Homo sapiens: one gene and its partners. The protein of the gene in region 1 purifies or fractionates together with the protein of each later gene. This does not show direct contact. Each region holds a gene or a part of one and is shown in the gene's direction. Other genes may lie near its edges. The genes, in order: FGF13, UBE2O and MARK3.

The links.
Region 2: the proteins of FGF13 (region 1) and UBE2O purify together in Homo sapiens (co-immunoprecipitation; 2 studies listed by BioGRID and IntAct, with this or other methods). This does not show direct contact.
Region 3: the proteins of FGF13 (region 1) and MARK3 purify together in Homo sapiens (co-immunoprecipitation; 2 studies listed by BioGRID and IntAct, with this or other methods). This does not show direct contact.

Annotation. Positions count from the first base shown.
Region 1 is NC_000023.11:138,614,110-138,617,725, reverse strand, and holds the end of FGF13 (fibroblast growth factor 13), read left to right. Parts: 3' UTR 1-2,999; downstream 3,000-3,616. UniProt on the Homo sapiens protein: Microtubule-binding protein which directly binds tubulin and is involved in both polymerization and stabilization of microtubules.
Region 2 is NC_000017.11:76,443,153-76,450,277, reverse strand, and holds part of UBE2O ((E3-independent) E2 ubiquitin-conjugating enzyme), read left to right. Parts: intron 1-7,125. UniProt on the Homo sapiens protein: E2/E3 hybrid ubiquitin-protein ligase that displays both E2 and E3 ligase activities and mediates monoubiquitination of target proteins. Negatively regulates TRAF6-mediated NF-kappa-B activation independently of its E2 activity.
Region 3 is NC_000014.9:103,465,371-103,472,495, forward strand, and holds part of MARK3 (MAP/microtubule affinity-regulating kinase 3), read left to right. Parts: intron 1-186; coding exon 187-423; intron 424-601; coding exon 602-721; intron 722-972; coding exon 973-1,072; intron 1,073-1,708; coding exon 1,709-1,821; intron 1,822-2,662; coding exon 2,663-2,816; intron 2,817-7,125. UniProt on the Homo sapiens protein: Serine/threonine-protein kinase. Involved in the specific phosphorylation of microtubule-associated proteins for MAP2 and MAP4. Phosphorylates the microtubule-associated protein MAPT/TAU. Phosphorylates CDC25C on 'Ser-216'.

The DNA of each region.
Region 1 (3,616 bases):
TCATGTGGTCCTCCCACCTCCACCTCCCAAGTCCTGAGGATACCAATTGTGAGTCACTGTGCCCAGCTATCCCCTTCTCACTCTCTTTTTCTCTCACACACATGTGTGCATGCACAGACACACACACCTCATGTTCATTCTCTTTACCATGATGATCCTTGGTTCTTTTACACAGCTTCTTTCAGTTTACCTTACAATTTAGCTCAACACAAATTTTAAAAAACTTATAGTTACAATTTAATTTGGCTTGGTCCACACCTCTAACAAATTTGATACAATCTCCAACTTACGGTTGCAAGTTAGTTGATTATATTCACTTCCAAGTATTTCCCCCAACATTTCATTATGAAAATATATCCATCAATTAATGCTCTTATCTATAAAATAATTATTTTTTTGCATTTCAAAATAAGTTACAGACATCAATGCACTTCATCTTTAAACCCTTTATCATGCATATCAGGAAGTAGAGTTTAATATTTCTATATTTCTTGGGGGAGAAATGGAGCTAAAATTATATACTGTATCATATACAAACCTGTTAGGTATATCAATTCATGTGTATTGACAAATGCGTGCACCATGTAACAGAAACTCCTTTCAAGATATAGAATATTCCTATCACTACAAATATTAATCACCAAAACAATGGGGAGAATGTCTCTAGGGCATGTCAGAGACCTTCACTGCAGCCTCTCCCATTATAGGCCAGGAGGCCTTGAAGGAAAAAAATGGTTTAGTGGGCCAGGCCTCAGGCACCCCCCCTTGCTCTTTGCAGCCTTGAAACATGGTACCCTGCGTCCCCAGCTGCTTCAGCTTCAGCTGTGGCTAAAAGGGGCCAACATACAGCTCAGGCCATTGTTTCAGAGAGTGCAATCCCCAAGCTTTGGCAGCTTACACATGGTGTTGGGCTTGCAGGAGCACAGAAGTCAAGAATTGAGGTTTGGGAACCTCTGCCTAGATTTCAGAGGATGTATGGAAATGCCTGGATGTCCAGACAGAAGTCTGCTGCAGGGGTAGAGCTCTCAGGGAGAACCTCTGCTAGGGCAGTGCAGAAGGGAAATGTGGGGTTGGAGCTCCCCCACAGAGTCTTCACTGGGGCACTGTATAGTGGAGCTCTGAGAAGAGGGCCATAGTCCTCCAGACCCCAGAATGGTAGATCCACCAATAGCTTGCACCATGCACCTGGAAAAGCCACTGGCACTCAACACCAGCCCATGAAAAGAGCTGTGAGGGTGGCTGCATCCTGCAAAGCCACAGGGGAAGAGCTGCCCAAGGCTGTGGGAGCCCACCCCTTGCATCATTGTGACCTGGATAGATGTGAGACATGGAGCCTAAGGAGATCATTTTGGAACTTTAAGCTTTAACGACTGCCCTATTGGATTTTGGACTTGCATGGGCCTATAGCCCCTTTGTTTTGGCCAACTTCTCCCATTTGGAATGGGTATTTTTACTCAATTCCTGTACCCCCATTGTATCTTGGAAATAACTAACTTGCTTTAGATTTTACAGGCTTATAGGTGGAAGGGACTTGCTTTGTCTCAGATGAGACTTTGGACTTGGACTTCTGGGTTAATGTTTGAATGAGTTAATACTTTGGGGGACTATTGGAAGGGCATGATTGTGTTTTGAAATGTGAGAACATGAGATTTGGGAGGAACTAGGGTCAGAATGATATGGTTTGGTTTTGTGTTCCCACCCAAATCTCTCCTTGAATTGTAATAATCCCCATGTGTCAGGGGTGGGACCAGGTGGAGGACTGAATCATGGGGGTGGTTTCCCTCATGCTATTCTCATGATAGTGATTTATAACAGATCCAATGGTTTTATAAGCATCTGGCATTTCCCCTGCTGGCACTCATTCTCTCTCCTGCCACCCTGTGAAGAGGGGCCTTCCACCATGATTGTAAGTCTCCTGAGGCCTCCGAAGCCATGCGGAACTGTGAGTCAGTTAAAACTCTTTCCTTTATAAATTACCTAGTCTTGGGTATTTCTTTATGGAAGCATGAGAATGAACTAATGCACAGGGTAAAAATTTAAAAACAAACATACAAATGCAAGTAAACAAGCCAATATTTCAACTGTTCCCATTGCATTATCCTTATTCTTTATCTATGGTACCAGAAAATAATACATCTGAAACAATTTTTTTTTCCTGCCATGATGTACACTCAAGTGGGTCCACTGGGGTTTCTTTCAGTTTCCCAAATACTAGATATGACTCTTCCCTATACCTTATCTTCATATGAAGAAAGCTATGAGAATATATTAATAACTGAATATAGTAACACTACTATAGGAATAAGCATGTGTATATTCCAACTGATCTTTTAAAACTTTTATTTTGAAATATTTATAGATTCAAAGGAAGATGCAAAGAGTATAGGGAAGTGCTATATGCCCTTTATCTAGTTCCTCTAGTGGTATCAACTTACATAACTGCAGTATCATATATAAACCAAGAAATTGGCATCTGTATAATCCACAGACATTACTCAGACTTCTCTAGTTTTACATACACTAATTTGTATGTGTGTGTGTGTGTGCGTGCACGTTTATGTGTGTAGGTCTATGCAATTTTACCACATGTGTATATTTGGGTAACCACTACAATGATCAAGATATGGAACTGTTCCGTCACCACTAAGATCCCTTGTGCTATTCCTTTATAAACATCTCCCTGTCATCCTTTTTCACCCATAAAAGCTAGTAAACACTAATCTGTTCTTCATCCTTATAATTTTATTATTTCAGAATTGTTATATAAATGTCATCATACAGTATATAACACATAGAGATTGGCTTTTGTCACTCAGCACAATTCCCTTGAGATGCATCCAAACTGTTGTGTATATCAGTAATGCAATATGTTTAATTTCTGTGTAGTATTCCATGGTAGAGATGTGCCATAGTTTAACTATTCACCTGTTGAACAACATTTGTGTTCTTTCTACTTTTGGGCTATTACAAATAAAGTTGCTATGAACATTCATGTATAAGATTTTGTGTGATCATTGGCTTTCATTGCTCTAAGACAAATTAATAAGCATTTCTGAGTTATATAATAATCACATATTCAGTTCTGTAATATATTGCCAAACTTTTTTAAAGTAGCTATATTTTTCATGTGTTTATTTTCGATACATATATCCTATTTTACAAAATGATTGTTGATGAATTTTCTCTATATTCTATTGGATGTTTTAAGAAATTTTCATTGAGTTTTCAGAGTTTGCTATATAGTCCAGTTATGAATCCTTTGTCAGATGTGTAGTTTGCATATTTTCTTCCTGTGGTTAATTACTAAAATTGCAGTGTAAGAACTTCTGAAAACCCTTTCATCCATAAAAGCAATAAGAACACAGGTGAAAATTCTAAATTAACTTGTTCATAACTCTGGAAATTAACTAAAAACTTGTAAGAATTTGAGAAGTCTTTATTTTAGAAAATTTGCTGGATATTGGCAAGAACAGTGAAATCTGTGGCATTTTAACTTACCATATTTCCATATTCTTTTACTCAGCTCTGCAATATTCTCAAAAGCCAAGTGCCCTGCAATTATAGTGGCATAAAAACAGCAGTCTGGCAGCCATCAAAAGTGGAAGAATGCCATTAA
Region 2 (7,125 bases), on another chromosome or scaffold:
GGTGGGTCCTGGGACCTTGCAGAACTGTGGCTTAGGATGATTTTTCTTCTCACCTCCTGCTCCTTATGAATTCCATCAAGGTGATAGTATGCCGTAAAGGAAAGACCATTAGACCAAGATTGACTAATCTAGTTATGAGATTTGAGAACCCAATTATTGACAAAATAATGTAGTGGCAGATTTTTTTTTTTTTTTGAGTTACTGGTTTGTTTATTATTTTTGGGATGGGGTCTCACTGTTACTCAGGTGTCCTTGAATTCCTGGTCTCACACAATCCTCCTGCCTCAGCCTCCCAGGTAGCTGGGACTACAGTAGTGATGGTTTTGAGAAACTTATTTTTTATTTATTTATGTTTTTGAGACGGAGTTTTGCTCTTGTTGCCCAGGCTGGAGTGCAATGGCGCCAGCTCGGCTCACCGCAACCTCTGCCTCCCGGGTTCAAGCGATTCTCCTACCTCAGCCTCCCGAGTAGCTGGGATTACAGGCATACGCCATCACGCCCGGCTAATTTTTTGTATTTTTAGTGGAGACGGGGTTTCTCCGTGGTGGCCAGGCTGTTCTTGAACTCCTGACCTCAGGTGATCCGCCCGCCTCGGCCTCCCAAAGTGCTGGGATTACAGGCAGGAGCCACCGCACCCGCCCGAAACTTATTTTTTTTAATAAGCTGCTACCTATTGAAAATTTTTGTGTGTGAGTTTCTTTTTTAAACAGAGTCTCTCTCTGTCACCCAGGCTGGAGTGCAGTGGCACGATCTCAGCTCATTACAACCTCAACTTCCCGGGTTCAAGTGATTCTTGTGCCTCAGCCTCCCGCATAGCTGGGATTATGGGCATGCGCCATCACACCCAGCTAATTTTTGTATTTTTAGTAGAGACGGCAGTTTGCCATTTTGGCCAGGCTGGTCTTGAACTTCTGGCCTCAAGTGATTCACCGGCCTTGGCCTCCCCAAGTGCTGGAATTACAGGCATAAGCCACAGTGCCTTGCCCCATTGAAATTTTTTAGTAGTATCTATTTAATGTGGAGTGTTTCATAGGGTGTGGCGTATTTTTGTAGTTTTCTCTGTAAATTGGAGGGCAATGAGTAAAGGCTTAATCTTAGTCTCAAGTTTTTAGTGAACAAATTTACAAAGAGAGATGAAGAGACTGGGCAGCAAGTCATGTCCTTTCCCTGCTGCCTTCATGAAAATAGCAACAGAAACAAAGTAAGTTCTTCCATGAAGCTATGGAATTTGTCGTGTTCCTGAGGCTTCCAGCCACCAAAATTAAGCCTCTTAAGGACTCAAAAGGAGCTAGTGGCCAGTGTCTCTTATATGCTTCTTCCTTTCTCCAGTCTTCTGACCTGTTCAGCGAGGTAGCCACTTGAAACTGTCCATCTGGCCATGGATCTCCTTAGAGGAGGCTTGCCCCTTCCCCATCACCAGTCATCCTTTGAATAAAATTTTGTAACAAAGCCAAATGCCAGCAGCCACTTAAACCTTCATGAGCACTGGCTAGACGTGGTGGGTCCTTCTGGTCTCCACCTGTCATGGTTGGGCAGAACAGCCCCCTGCGAGGTAAGGGAGCAGGACTGCTGTCTGTCAGTTCAAGTTCAGCCTTCGTTTCGGAGGCAAAGCGTTTATGCTTTAGCTTTCTTGTGCTTTTTCATCTCTTTTGCATTGTCTTTTGTTTTAAGTTGCCATGACATTCAGGGTTTCACCAGGTTTGAGATATAGTGCCTCTAAATTAGGGCTGTCTGTGATCACCCTGCTTTTATGAAGCTGTGTGTGTGAAACATCCCTGATGACAGGTCCCTCGGGAATTGGCTTTGCAGTTTATTTTTGGCTCCTACGCTGGCCAGCATTTCCATGGGGAAAGCTATTTAGGTGTAGCATCATGGCACGTGAAGTTTGTCTCACTTGTCTGGGTGCTGGGCCCATTAAAAGCAATTGTTCTTAGTGATGTAATGTGAAGAAGTTATATAAGGTTAACCAAGATGCAGGACTAAGTGAATCTAAATTGCGTTTTATTCAGATAGGATCACAGCACTTGTAGACTCTTAACAGCTGTTCTGTGATTTTATTCTTTGTCCCTTGATTTTTCCCCTTCTAGCCCTCGGGCCTCAGTGCCCTGATGGTGCTTCTGTCTGGCTGCTGCCTGACTCAAGGGTACTTTCCCCAGATGAAGGGTGTGTGTTTTGTACTGTGATTGGAAGCCAAAACCCTTGGGTGCTCTTCCTGGCTGTCACCTACTCTGAATGACCTTGACCAAGTCACTGCCTCATTTTCTCCCTCTGCAATGAAATAAGAGGTCTATCTTCCTAACCCCGATATGATCCTGCTCGGATGGAATAACCAGAAGTGTAGCTGGGTCAAGCCTAGGATGGCCACTTGGTTATTAGCAGACAGCATTCTGATGTCTGTCAGAGAGAGCCAGCCCTGTGCCTTCAGAAGATCACTTCCATGAGAAAGAGGGTGATGCTGCACCAAAGAGGCACCTTGGGAAGCAAAAGGTGCACGAGGCGGGTTGTGGGGAAGGTGGTTGTTTCAGGGGCATAGGAATTCCTAATGGCTCGTGTTGCTAGTGACCAGATGGATTATAGGTTTGACTTTATTAAACCTCTTCTAGAAATACTCATGAACTTCCTACCTCTGTTACTTTGTGAGAAATTCAGTAATGCACATTTAAAGTAACCCCGGCCGTCCTCCAGGAGGGGGATGGAATGAATCTGTATGTATGTATGTATGTTTCCAGAGTCTGAAAGGTCTCTTGAAATTCTCAAGACTGGTAATGAGATTATAAATTACAAAGATGATAGAGTATTGCTTTATATTTTAAGGTAATAAGAGCAGTCATGATCCAGGATACTGTTACTGTGTGCCAGGCACTCTTAGTGCTTTAGATGTTTTACTTCACGCTCACAACAACCCTGTGGTGCTATTATTAGCCCCATATTCCAGAGAAGGAAGCTGAGGAACAGAGAGGTTAAGTAAATTGCCCAGTGTCACACTTCTAAGTGGAGGAATCTGAATACAAATTGAACTAAATGTACTTTGTTCTCACCTGAGAATACTTAAGTTCAGGATTCAGAGATCATTACTATACGTGACCGAGTGCCCTGATCCAACATGAATCACAAGCCTTGTGGTTGGCATTAATCATCCCTTCTTTAAACAGTTGAAAGTCTTAGTGTAATAGGAGGTACTACAAGTGAGGAAGGAGAGAGGCACAGGATGTTGGGATAGGTGGAAGTTGTGCCAGTGGGCAGGCAGGAGGGAGGGAGATGATGGGTAGGGAGCAGGACGGGAGGAACACTGCATTCGCACTGGCGGTGTGCTTCTGCAGATTCCACTCTTTTCATTCCCTGACCCCTCAGTCATTCTCAAAATAACTGTCAAAAACACATTGCATTTCTAGAGAACCTTTGACTGCCCCTCAATGTTGAATGAAGCAACCTCTGTAGTCTGATTCATTCCAACACTGAACTGCAGTTCAGTTTTATTCCCCAACTCCACCTCCTAGAGCAAAACAAGTGTGCAGACACTCCACGTAACTGGCATTTCTGTGTTGCCTCAGAAGTGGTCAGCTCCATTAGGAGCTCCAACTTGACCTCCTGTCCGCTCTGCTGCTGTCATCCTTCGGCTGGGAATGCTGAGTCATGAGACAGGTTCAGGAAGGATTCCTTGGAGAGGCTGAGTTCCACCTCAATTTCAGTTTCTGTTCCCTTCAGTTTCCGTGTGTTTTTGCTTTAGGACATTAGAGGCCTCTTTGCACCTTCCCCATCTCTACTTCACTTTTATCCCTGTTTCTCTCTGTTTTGTTTGTTTGGTTTTTTTTTTTGTTTGTTTTTGTTTTTTCATTTTCCTGTTATACTAAGAGGAACTTTTTCTATTTTTTACTACTTAACCCACCATGGGGGCTCATGGAATCCAGTGGAACCTGTTGGGGGCCAGCACTTTTTAAAAGGGTGCAATTGTCGTGTATAACATGAATTGCCAGCACAACAGTCCTGGGCACGTGATCAGTGTCAGCTGCCGCTGGTGGTCGGTCCCCTCAGAGTTGGAGTCAGGGTGGTTTTCTGTGACATGTGGGTTTTCACCCAGGAGGATATGATCTGTGCTCCTATTCTGATGGAAGCTTTTGGAATTTCCTTGCCCAAGGCTTAGCCTGCTTCTGGATGGCGATGGGGAGTTGCTGATTTAAAATGACAATCAAAAGGGGCAAGTTACAATCAGGAACGTCTATAATGTGCTTTCCAGTTTACAAGAGGCTATCACTTTTCTCACTTAATAGGATCTCGGTATTTTTAACTGTAGCTCCTTCCTGAGGCTCCACTTGCCCATGAATGGGTGCCAGTCCTGGAGAAGGTCATGGTCTAAATGCTGCCCATCCACATTTGCAGCTCTTACTGAGCAAGAGTGCCCGTTCGGAATTGCTTCATCTTCTGACATTCCAGCCAGCCACGGGGGGACTCTGTCAGGAGCCACTTGATGTGTGCAGTTATAGCCAGGGAAGAGCAAAATGCTTATTGGAATTTGCTGTAGTTGAGAATAAAATTGAATTGTGTTACTGGATAACTCTCTGGATTTATCTACTCCAAGTTATTTGCCTTTGTTTCATTCGTTAGCTATACTCTGTGATTGAGGATTTAATGTCCTTCAATCCAGGCTGACTGTATTGGATGGATCCTTGGGTCAGCTTTGTCCAGGTCACCCCTAGACACAGGTAGGCTGTGTTCTCCTGAAGCAGTATTGTGAAAAGCACATTTTTATGGTTTAAACATTGCAGTCAGTTGACATACCACTCAGAAGTATTCAGTGGGCAATAAGGATTGGAATGAATGTCCTTTTTGGGTTTAATCTGGTTCTTTGGTTGGGGGATTTTGAGTTGGTTTGCATTTTTAGAGAGGCCACAGCAATATTTAATATTCTGCAGCTAAGTCAAAGGAGTAAGACATTTTTCAGGTCACTTTTGGTTTAAATTGATAGCATAACTATACCTGGGAAACAGTCTGACTATGATAATTGAAAGTAAAAAAAAAAATTAAAACACTGAGTCATGCTTGGAAAAAGAAAAAAAAAAAGGCAGTCAGTCCTACCCAACAATGACATGAATATTCCCAGCTAGCACTGACAGAGAGATTTCCTGCAGGCACCCTTAAAAAGAGAGGCCTTCATTTGCATCCTGCAAGAGAGCTGGTCTTTTCACACTCAGCAGCTCCGATGATGTTCTTCCTCCTCCTTTTAATTCTGGTCCTTTTTGTGGGAGCTCCCTCTGGAAGAGGGCAGTTGAAGATAGATACCTTGACCGGCAGATTCAGCGGACTGTGTGTGTGGTCACCGGACTGTGTGTGTGGTCACCGCTAGTGCAGGTGGGAAGTGTAGACACACAAATACGTCTCCAGGGATTCTGGGAGCCTCAGGGCTTGACATATGCAGTGCTGAAAGCATCCCGGTATTCATGTGCTCTGACTGTTTTATTATTTAAGGGATTCTGAGGGCCCTGAAGGTTGATGACATCATCTTCAAGCCAAGGAAGAAAGCATTTCTCTGGTCCCCCAGTGTGCTTTTGGGTCATCCCAGCACTGTACTGGGGGAAATGGATGTCTGCCTCCATTTCCTCATGACCTGCTCTCGCCTTCAGTCATTTTCTGTCTAACCTCTCACACCACTGAGTGTGACGGCTCCCCTGAAGGTCACAAATGACTAGTGAATTTCTGATCACTGCATTTGCTGACATTTTCTCAGTCCTTGTCCTCATTTTGATCCATCAGCCTTATGCTCTGTCACCCAGGCTGGAATGCAGTGGCGTGATCACACCTTACTGCAGCCTCCGCCTCCTGGGCTCAAGCAGTGCTCCCACCTCAGCCTCCTGTGCAGCTGGAACTACACACTCGGCTTTTTAAAATATTTTTGTAGAAACAGGGTCTCACCATGGTATTGGCCAGGCTGGTCTCGAACTCCTGACCCCAAGTGATCCTCCCACTTCAGCTTCCCAAAGTGTTGGGATTACAGACGTGAGCCACGGTGCCTAGCTGACCACACCCTCTTTGTTTTGTTTTGTTTTGTTTTGCTTTGTTTGTGAGATGGAGTCTCAGTCTGTCGCCCAGGCTGGAGTGCAGTGGTGCAACCTTGGCTCACTGCAACCTCTGCCTTCTGGGTTCTAGCGATTCTCCTGCCTCAGCCTCCCAAGTAGCTGGGATTACAGGCTCCCGCCACCACGTCCGAGTAATATTTGTCTTTTTAGCAGAGACGGGGTTTCACCATATTGGTCAGGCTGGTCTCGAACTCTTGACCTCAGGTGATCCATCCGCCTCAGCTTCCCAAAGTGCTGGGATTACAGGCATGAGCTACCGCGCCTGGCCGACCATGCCCTCTTAACGGTATTTCCTTCCTTGGGGTTCTATTATACCAGACTATACCAAATGTTTCTCTTTTTTGCCTTTTGTCTTCTTCCTCTTACCCATAGATGTGCAGCTTTTCCAAAGACCTCTCTTTTCTTTATCTCTTCCTCCCCAGTTTTTTGGAGTGACCTCCCTGCTTGTAGCTGCATCTGGTACCTGTATTTAGGTGACTTCCACAGTGACATCACATGCCCAGCTGCTTACTTGATAGCTCCATTGTGCCATGTAGACTTTGTGGGTATAAAATCTTGTGATTGTGACTGCCCTTCCCATCCCCAAGTCTGTGGACTTAAAAAAAAAAAAAATGTTCTGACTGGGCACAGTGGCTCACGCCTGTAATCCCAGCATTTTGGGAGGCCGAGGTGGGTGGATCACTTGAGGTCAGGAGTTCGAGACCAGCCTGGCCAACATGGTGAAACCCCATCTCTACTAAAAATGCAAAAATTAGCCATGCGTGGTGGTGGGTGCCTGTGATCCCAGCTACTCGGGAGGCTAGGGCAGGAGAATTGCTTGAACCCAGGAGGCAGAGGTTGCAGTGAGCCGAGATCGTGCCCCGGCACTCCAGCCTGGGCGACAGAGTGAGACTCTTTCTCGAGGAAAAAAATATATATATATATTCCCCAACTTTTTTTGTTTTTGGTTCTGAACCCAAGACCCAACTTTTTAATAGGAAAAAATATTGACCATACCAAAATGTTGAAAGCCAGTAATTGCTAACCCCCAACCATTATGAGTCAGCAGTTGTTA
Region 3 (7,125 bases), on another chromosome or scaffold:
TGTTAATATTATAAAATAAGGAGTTCTGACTTGTCTCCTGTTTTTTTCTCTAGAAAGAATGTTTTCACATTAATTAGGAGGTAACTTCATATCATTACAGAAAGCTTTTCTAAAATGCCTAATCCTGTCATAATTCTAATTCTATTTTGGCTAAATTTCATTTTTGTCTTGATGTTTTCCCTCTAGGCTGAAAATCTATTGTTAGATGCCGATATGAACATTAAAATAGCAGATTTCGGTTTTAGCAATGAATTTACTGTTGGCGGTAAACTCGACACGTTTTGTGGCAGTCCTCCATACGCAGCACCTGAGCTCTTCCAGGGCAAGAAATATGACGGGCCAGAAGTGGATGTGTGGAGTCTGGGGGTCATTTTATACACACTAGTCAGTGGCTCACTTCCCTTTGATGGGCAAAACCTAAAGGTATAAGAAGCTGCACCCATGTACTTCACTAAACTAAAAGAAGTTTCCTAATATTACATGGCTTAATATTTTTAACATTATATCAGTGCGGGGGGTTTCAGGGGGTTTTTTGTTGTGTTTTGTTAACTAAACCTAAAGGTTGACTTACTCGTTTTCTTTCCTCTGTACCTCTCCAAAGGAACTGAGAGAGAGAGTATTAAGAGGGAAATACAGAATTCCCTTCTACATGTCTACAGACTGTGAAAACCTTCTCAAACGTTTCCTGGTGCTAAATCCAATTAAACGCGGCACTCTAGAGGTAATCATGTAGGTGGAAACAAGCAGTAACTTTGGAGAGTCTTTAGAGTGACCTTAGATCTTTGCTTGATTTGTATGCCATACTGGATATATCCTGCGGCTTTTTAAGCAAGAATTGAAACATTAAAAAATATTTTTTGAGTTTATGCTTTGAACGATAGTCAATGAAATGTTGAAAATAAATTTTTGTAAATATTACGGTTATCAGAATATTTCATTTTACTCTGCTAATGAACAGTTTACCTTTTTTAGCAAATCATGAAGGACAGGTGGATCAATGCAGGGCATGAAGAAGATGAACTCAAACCATTTGTTGAACCAGAGCTAGACATCTCAGACCAAAAAAGAATAGGTAATCACTCCATGCCTGCATGTTCATGTGTTTTTGTCTAAGTAACATATTTCTGTTTTGACTCATGTCTGTGCCTAAAATGTGAATAATGGAAAGTTAAGCACAAGTCATATGAACAGTTTATCTGTTCTGTCATATTTAGGAACGTAACTACCTGCAGTTTCCTATAATGGCACCCAGTAACTCTGAAACAAGTGCCCATTTATGTTACAAAATATATGTAATATGTCATCTTTTAGGTCAAATGAAAATTATTTTACCCTACAAAAGAATGATTTCTGGCCGGGCGTGGTGGCTCACGCCTGTAATCCCAGCACTTTGGGAGGCCAAGGCGGGCAGATCACCTGAGGTCGGGAGGTCGAGGCCAGCCTGACCAACATGGAGAAACCCCATCTCTACTAAAACTACAAAATTAGCCAGGCACGGTGGCTCATGCCTGTAATCCCAGCTACTCGGGAGGCTGAGGCAGGAGAATTGCTTGAATCTGGGAGGTGGAGGTTGCGGTGAGCCAAGATCGCGCCATTGCACTCCAGCCTGGGCAACAAGAGTGAAACTCCGTCTCAAAAAAAAAAAAAAAAAAAAGGATGATTTCTTACCCAAACAAAACACATAAACTGTATTATGCCCTTCTTTTAGATATTATGGTGGGAATGGGATATTCACAAGAAGAAATTCAAGAATCTCTTAGTAAGATGAAATACGATGAAATCACAGCTACATATTTGTTATTGGGGAGAAAATCTTCAGAGGTAAGAGTAATCAGAAAGAGCTGAAATACCCTGTATGTAATTATTAGTTTATATAAACTGTTTTCTTAGTTTTTATCTTTTGAATATTTGTAACATTTGATACATCATTTTTTAGATTTACTTGCAAATAGCAAATCTAAATCCTATGACTATTATAAGCTATTTTAACTTAACCCTTAATGATGGATATTGGCCAGGCGTGGTGGCTCATGCCTGTAATCCCAGCACTTTGGGAGGCCAAGGCGGACAGATCACTTGAGACCAGGAGTTCGAGACCAGACTGGCCAACATAGGGAAACTCTGTCTCTGCTAAAACAAACAAACAAACAAAAAATTAGCTGGGCGTGTTGGCGCTTGCCTGTAATCCCTGCTCCTTGGGAGGCTGAGGCAAGAGAACTGCTTGACCCTGAGAGGCAGAGGTTGCGGTGAGCCAGGATCACGCCACTGCACTCCAGCCTGGGTGACAGAGCGAGACTCTGTCTCAAAAAAAAAAAAAAAAAAAAAAAGATGGATGTTGTCATAAACCTGGTCTTTCATAAATTAACCTGTAGTCATTAATAGCTTAGAAATGACGTAAAGCATCAGATGAAGTAAATACAACATTTAAAGTTATTTGAGAAAGCCTGGAAAGAAAATCATAAATACCTTACCTTTAGTGTCTTTCCAGCCGTCAGAAAACTACTTTTGCTTGAGTTTAGGGTTGTCATTTTTGTACGTTGTGATTCCTCCTCTCTCTGAATGAACGGTTTATGAGAGGTCTGTGTTAATGAAAAGTTTAACTTCCTAATAAGCCATTTGGGTTCGTGTTGTGGTTTGCTCTGTTTTTCTCATTTTCTCTTAGCTGGATGCTAGTGATTCCAGTTCTAGCAGCAATCTTTCACTTGCTAAGGTTAGGCCGAGCAGTGATCTCAACAACAGTACTGGCCAGTCTCCTCACCACAAAGTGCAGAGAAGTGTTTCTTCAAGCCAAAAGCAAAGACGCTACAGTGACCATGGTAAGTTTTGGAGTATCCCAGTGCCTTCTCTTAGAGTCCAGGCAAGAGGTCTCCTAGCACTGGGAAGCATTCTCTTGCTCAGAGCCTGGCTTGATGTCCTTTCTTGGCATTGCTTTCTTTCTTTCTTCTTTTTTTTTTTTTTTTTTTTTTTTTTTTGAGACAGAGTCTCACTCTGTTGCCCAGGCTGGAGTGGAGTGGCACAATTTTGGCTCACTGCAACCTCCACCTCCCAGGTTCAAGCGATTCTCCTGCCTCAGCCTCCTGAATAGCTGGGACTACAGGTGTGTACCACCATGCCTGGCTAAGTTTTGTATTTTTAGTAGAGACGGGGTTTCACCACATTTGGCCAGGCTGGTCTTCAGCTCCTGGCCTTAAGTGATCCACCTGCCTTGGCCTCCCAGAGCGCTGGAATTACAGGCATGAGCCACCGTGCCTGGCCAGCATTTTTTCTTAGTGTTCCTGCAGGTGCTGCCATGATTACATATTACTTCAAGGCTCTTATCTTCTTTATACATGCAGTAGATTTTTGCTGGATAAAGCTTAGTTGAGTGGAAACCTTACCATTTGCCCTTCTAGAACCTCTGCTTTAATCTGTAGTTTTCCTTTTTTTTTTTTTTTTTAAATGGAGATGGGGGTCTCGCTATGTTGCCCAAGCTGGTCTCAAACTCCCAAGTTCAAACTATTCTCTCACCACAGCGTTCTAAAGTGCTAGGATTACAGACGTGAGCCACCATGCCCAGCGCTAGAACTGGGCGCTGTACCGAACTGAATAGAACTGCTAGTCTGTAGTTCTATTCACTCTCTTCACCTCTGCATTGGATTTACTTTGTAGAGTAGCACTGTCCAGTAGAACTTTCTGAGATGATTACAGTTTTGTGTATCTGTGCTGTCCAGTCAAGAAGCTACTGGCCACTTGTGGCTATCAAGTACTTGAACTGAGGAAATGATTTTTACCTTTTTTATTTCTATTTATTTTTTATTATTTTTATTTATTTATTTATTTATTTATTTTTCAGATGGAATCTGGCTCTGTCGCCCAGGCTGGAATGCAGTGGCATGATCTTGGCTCACTGCAACCTCCACCTCCCAGGTCCCAGCAGTTCTCCTGCCTCAGCCTCCTGAGTAGCTGGGATTACAGGCATGCACAACCACACCCGGCTAATTTTTGTATTTTTAATAGAGACAGGGTTTCACCATATTGGCTAGGCTGGTCTTGAACTTGGGAGCTCAAGCAATCCACTCACCTTGGCCTCCAAAAGTGATGGGATTACAGGTGTGAGCCACCGCGCCTGGCCTTATTTATTTGTTTATTTTTTGAGATGGAATTTTGCTCTTGTTACCCAGGCTGGAGTGCAATGGCATGATCTCCGCTCACTGCAACCTCAGCCTCCGAAGTAGCTGGGACTATAGGCACACACCACCACACCTGGCCAATATTGTATTTTTAGTAGAGACGGGATTTCACCATGTTGGCCAGGCTGGTCTAGAACTCCTGACCTCAGGTGATCCACCCACCTTGGCCTCCCAAAGTGCTGGATTACACGTGTGAGTCTGTAATTGGCCTGGCTGATTTTTACCCTTTTAAAATTTTCCTGGCCGGACATGGTGGCTCATGCCTGTAATTCCAGCACCTTGGGAGGCCGAGGCGTGTGGATCACTAGGTCAGGAGTTCGAGACTAGCCTGACCAACGTGGTGAAACCCCATCTCTACTAAAAATAAAAAAATTACCTGGGCATGGTGGTGTGTGCCTGTAATTCCAGCTACTCAGGAGGCTGAGGTAGGAGAATCGCTTGAACCTGGGAGGCAGAGGTTGCAGTGAGCCAAGATCGTGTGACTGCACTCCAGCCTAGTGACAGAGTGAGAGTCCATCTCAAAAAAAAAAAAAAAAATTTGTACTTAAGTGTAATATATAGCCAGTTGTGGCCAGTAACTCTCATAATAGACAGGACAGCCCTGGAGAATATATGGAACCTCAGTTTTGCCTTAATTGGTTTAAATGTTGTACTGTGTCATTCTCATCCATACTCTTGCTGTTAGTGTGGTTAAGCCACTCTCCCTTTTAAACTTCACCTAGAAGCCAGTCCTTTATGAGACATAAGACTCCCAGTGGGTAGGCTTACCAGGCTCTACAGTTGCTCTGCCTTCAAGGCAGCCTGTGTGTCAGAGTCCTGAGGCTAGCGTGTGTGTTTACTTGCCCATAACTATAAATGTTAACATTGCAGATATTTCCTTTAATTCTACTATTCCAGGATTCAGGAACTAAATCTATTTTTTTTTTTTTTTTTGAGATGGAGTTTCACTCTTGTCACCCAGGCTGGAGTGCAATAGCGCGATCTCGGCTCACTGCAACCTCCGCCTCCTGGGTTCTAGCAATTCTCCTGCCTCAGCCTCCCGAGTAGCTGGGACTACAGGCATGCATCACCATGCCCAGCTAATTTTTTTATTTTTAGTAGAGACGGGGTTTCACCACATTTGGCCAGGCTGGTCCCGAACTCCTGAACTCAGGTGATCCATCCACCTCAGCCTCCCAAAGTGCTCGGATTACAGGCATGAGTCACTGCGCTCGGCCTCATTTTATTTCTCTTCTCTGGACATTTTCCATCTTAATACTTTCATCTTGAGATTTGACACTTAGGACTGCACAGGGCATTTTAGGTGTGGACAGCTTTGATTTTGTACTAAAAATGATTACACTTGGCTTGATTTCCATTTCTCTTCCTTCTGTTGCTTGCCTTTCTACATGGTTTAGACTGAAGCAACAGTGTACTAATATCACTAGTAAACCATCTACAGTGCCTGCTATTCTAGGGTGTAACTGAGAGCTCAGAACTCATTCTCACATCAGGATTTGTGCTCCTAGCATTTGTAGGTGACGTGTTGATCTAGGTCTGCCTTTTTTGTGTTCATGTTAGTCACTAACAAGGGGGGTTTCTAGTGCTTATGGACCACATGGCAATTAAATGCCCATATATTGCCCTGAAACCATCTGGTTTAACTTGTCCCTCAATCCTAGAAGAAACCTGACAATGGGATTTTCACATTTCTCTAAGGAATATGTTAGTAAGTTATTCCTTAAGCACATAGATTCCATCCAGATTATTAGTGCCTTTTTCCCCCCAGCTCAATTTTAGAGATAAAAAGAGCTTTAGACATGGTATTGTACACTCACCAAACCTCTGTTTTATCCCTAAATAGACCAAGAGAGATTACCAAGTCTCCCAAGGTTACATAGTAAATGAGAAACACCTGGGGCAGAGCTCAGGCCTGCTGGTCCAAGCCCTGTGTTTTTTCTCCACTGAAGCACCTCATTGGAGTAGCTTTTTCATAATCCTCATCTTTCTTGGAATTTCTGAAGGCAGGCAAGCCTGTATAGCCGGGCTAACTTTCACCTCATCCTCCTGCCTCGTCTCACCTCTCCCTTCCCTTTTCCTTGCCTGTGGATGCTGACCTCTGCATGGGTGCCTGCTTCTCTAAAGCTACGATGTAATCTGTAGCTGTCCTTCCTCGTTTGAGACCCACATGTGAACACCCCATATGTGTGCACTTTTTCTGCGAATGGTGATCATCTGATTTTCAAGGGGTTAGCTTGTTTTTTAAAAAATGAAAAAAAAAATCACTGTTTACTAATCAATGAGTGGTATTGGGGCAATTTGGTAGTTCTCAGAAAAAAAATTAATTTGGATCAATTTCTCACATCTTATACAAGGATGAATTCTAATTGGAGTTAAGATACAAATATAGGGCTGGGCGCAGTGGCTCATGCCTGTAATCCCAGCACTTTGGGAGTCCGAGGCAGGTGGATCACGAGGTCAGGAGATCGAGACCATCCTGGCTAACATGGTGAAACCCTGTCTCTACTAAAAAATAGAAAAAATTAGCCAGGCGTGGTGGTGGGCACCTATAGTCCCAGCTACTCAGGAGGCTGAGGCAGGAGAATGGATGAACCCGGGAGGCGGAGCTTGCAGTGAGCCGAGATCGAGCCACTGCACTCCAGCCTGGGCGACAGAGCGAGACTCCGTCTCAAAAAAAAAAAAAAAAAAGATGTAAATAAAACTCCAGAAATATTGAAAGAAACCTTGGGATTATTTGCTTTGTAACTTGGACTGGTGAAGGTGTTTCTGTCACCCCAAACACCAAACCCATGAAATAAAAGACTTACAAATTTGATTACATAAAAATGAAATTTCTGGCCGGTCGCATAATCCCAGCACTTTGGGAGGCCGAGGTGGGCGGATCACGAGGTCAGGAGATCGAGAACATCCTGGCTAACACGGTGAAACCCTGTGTCTACTAAAAATACAAAAACAA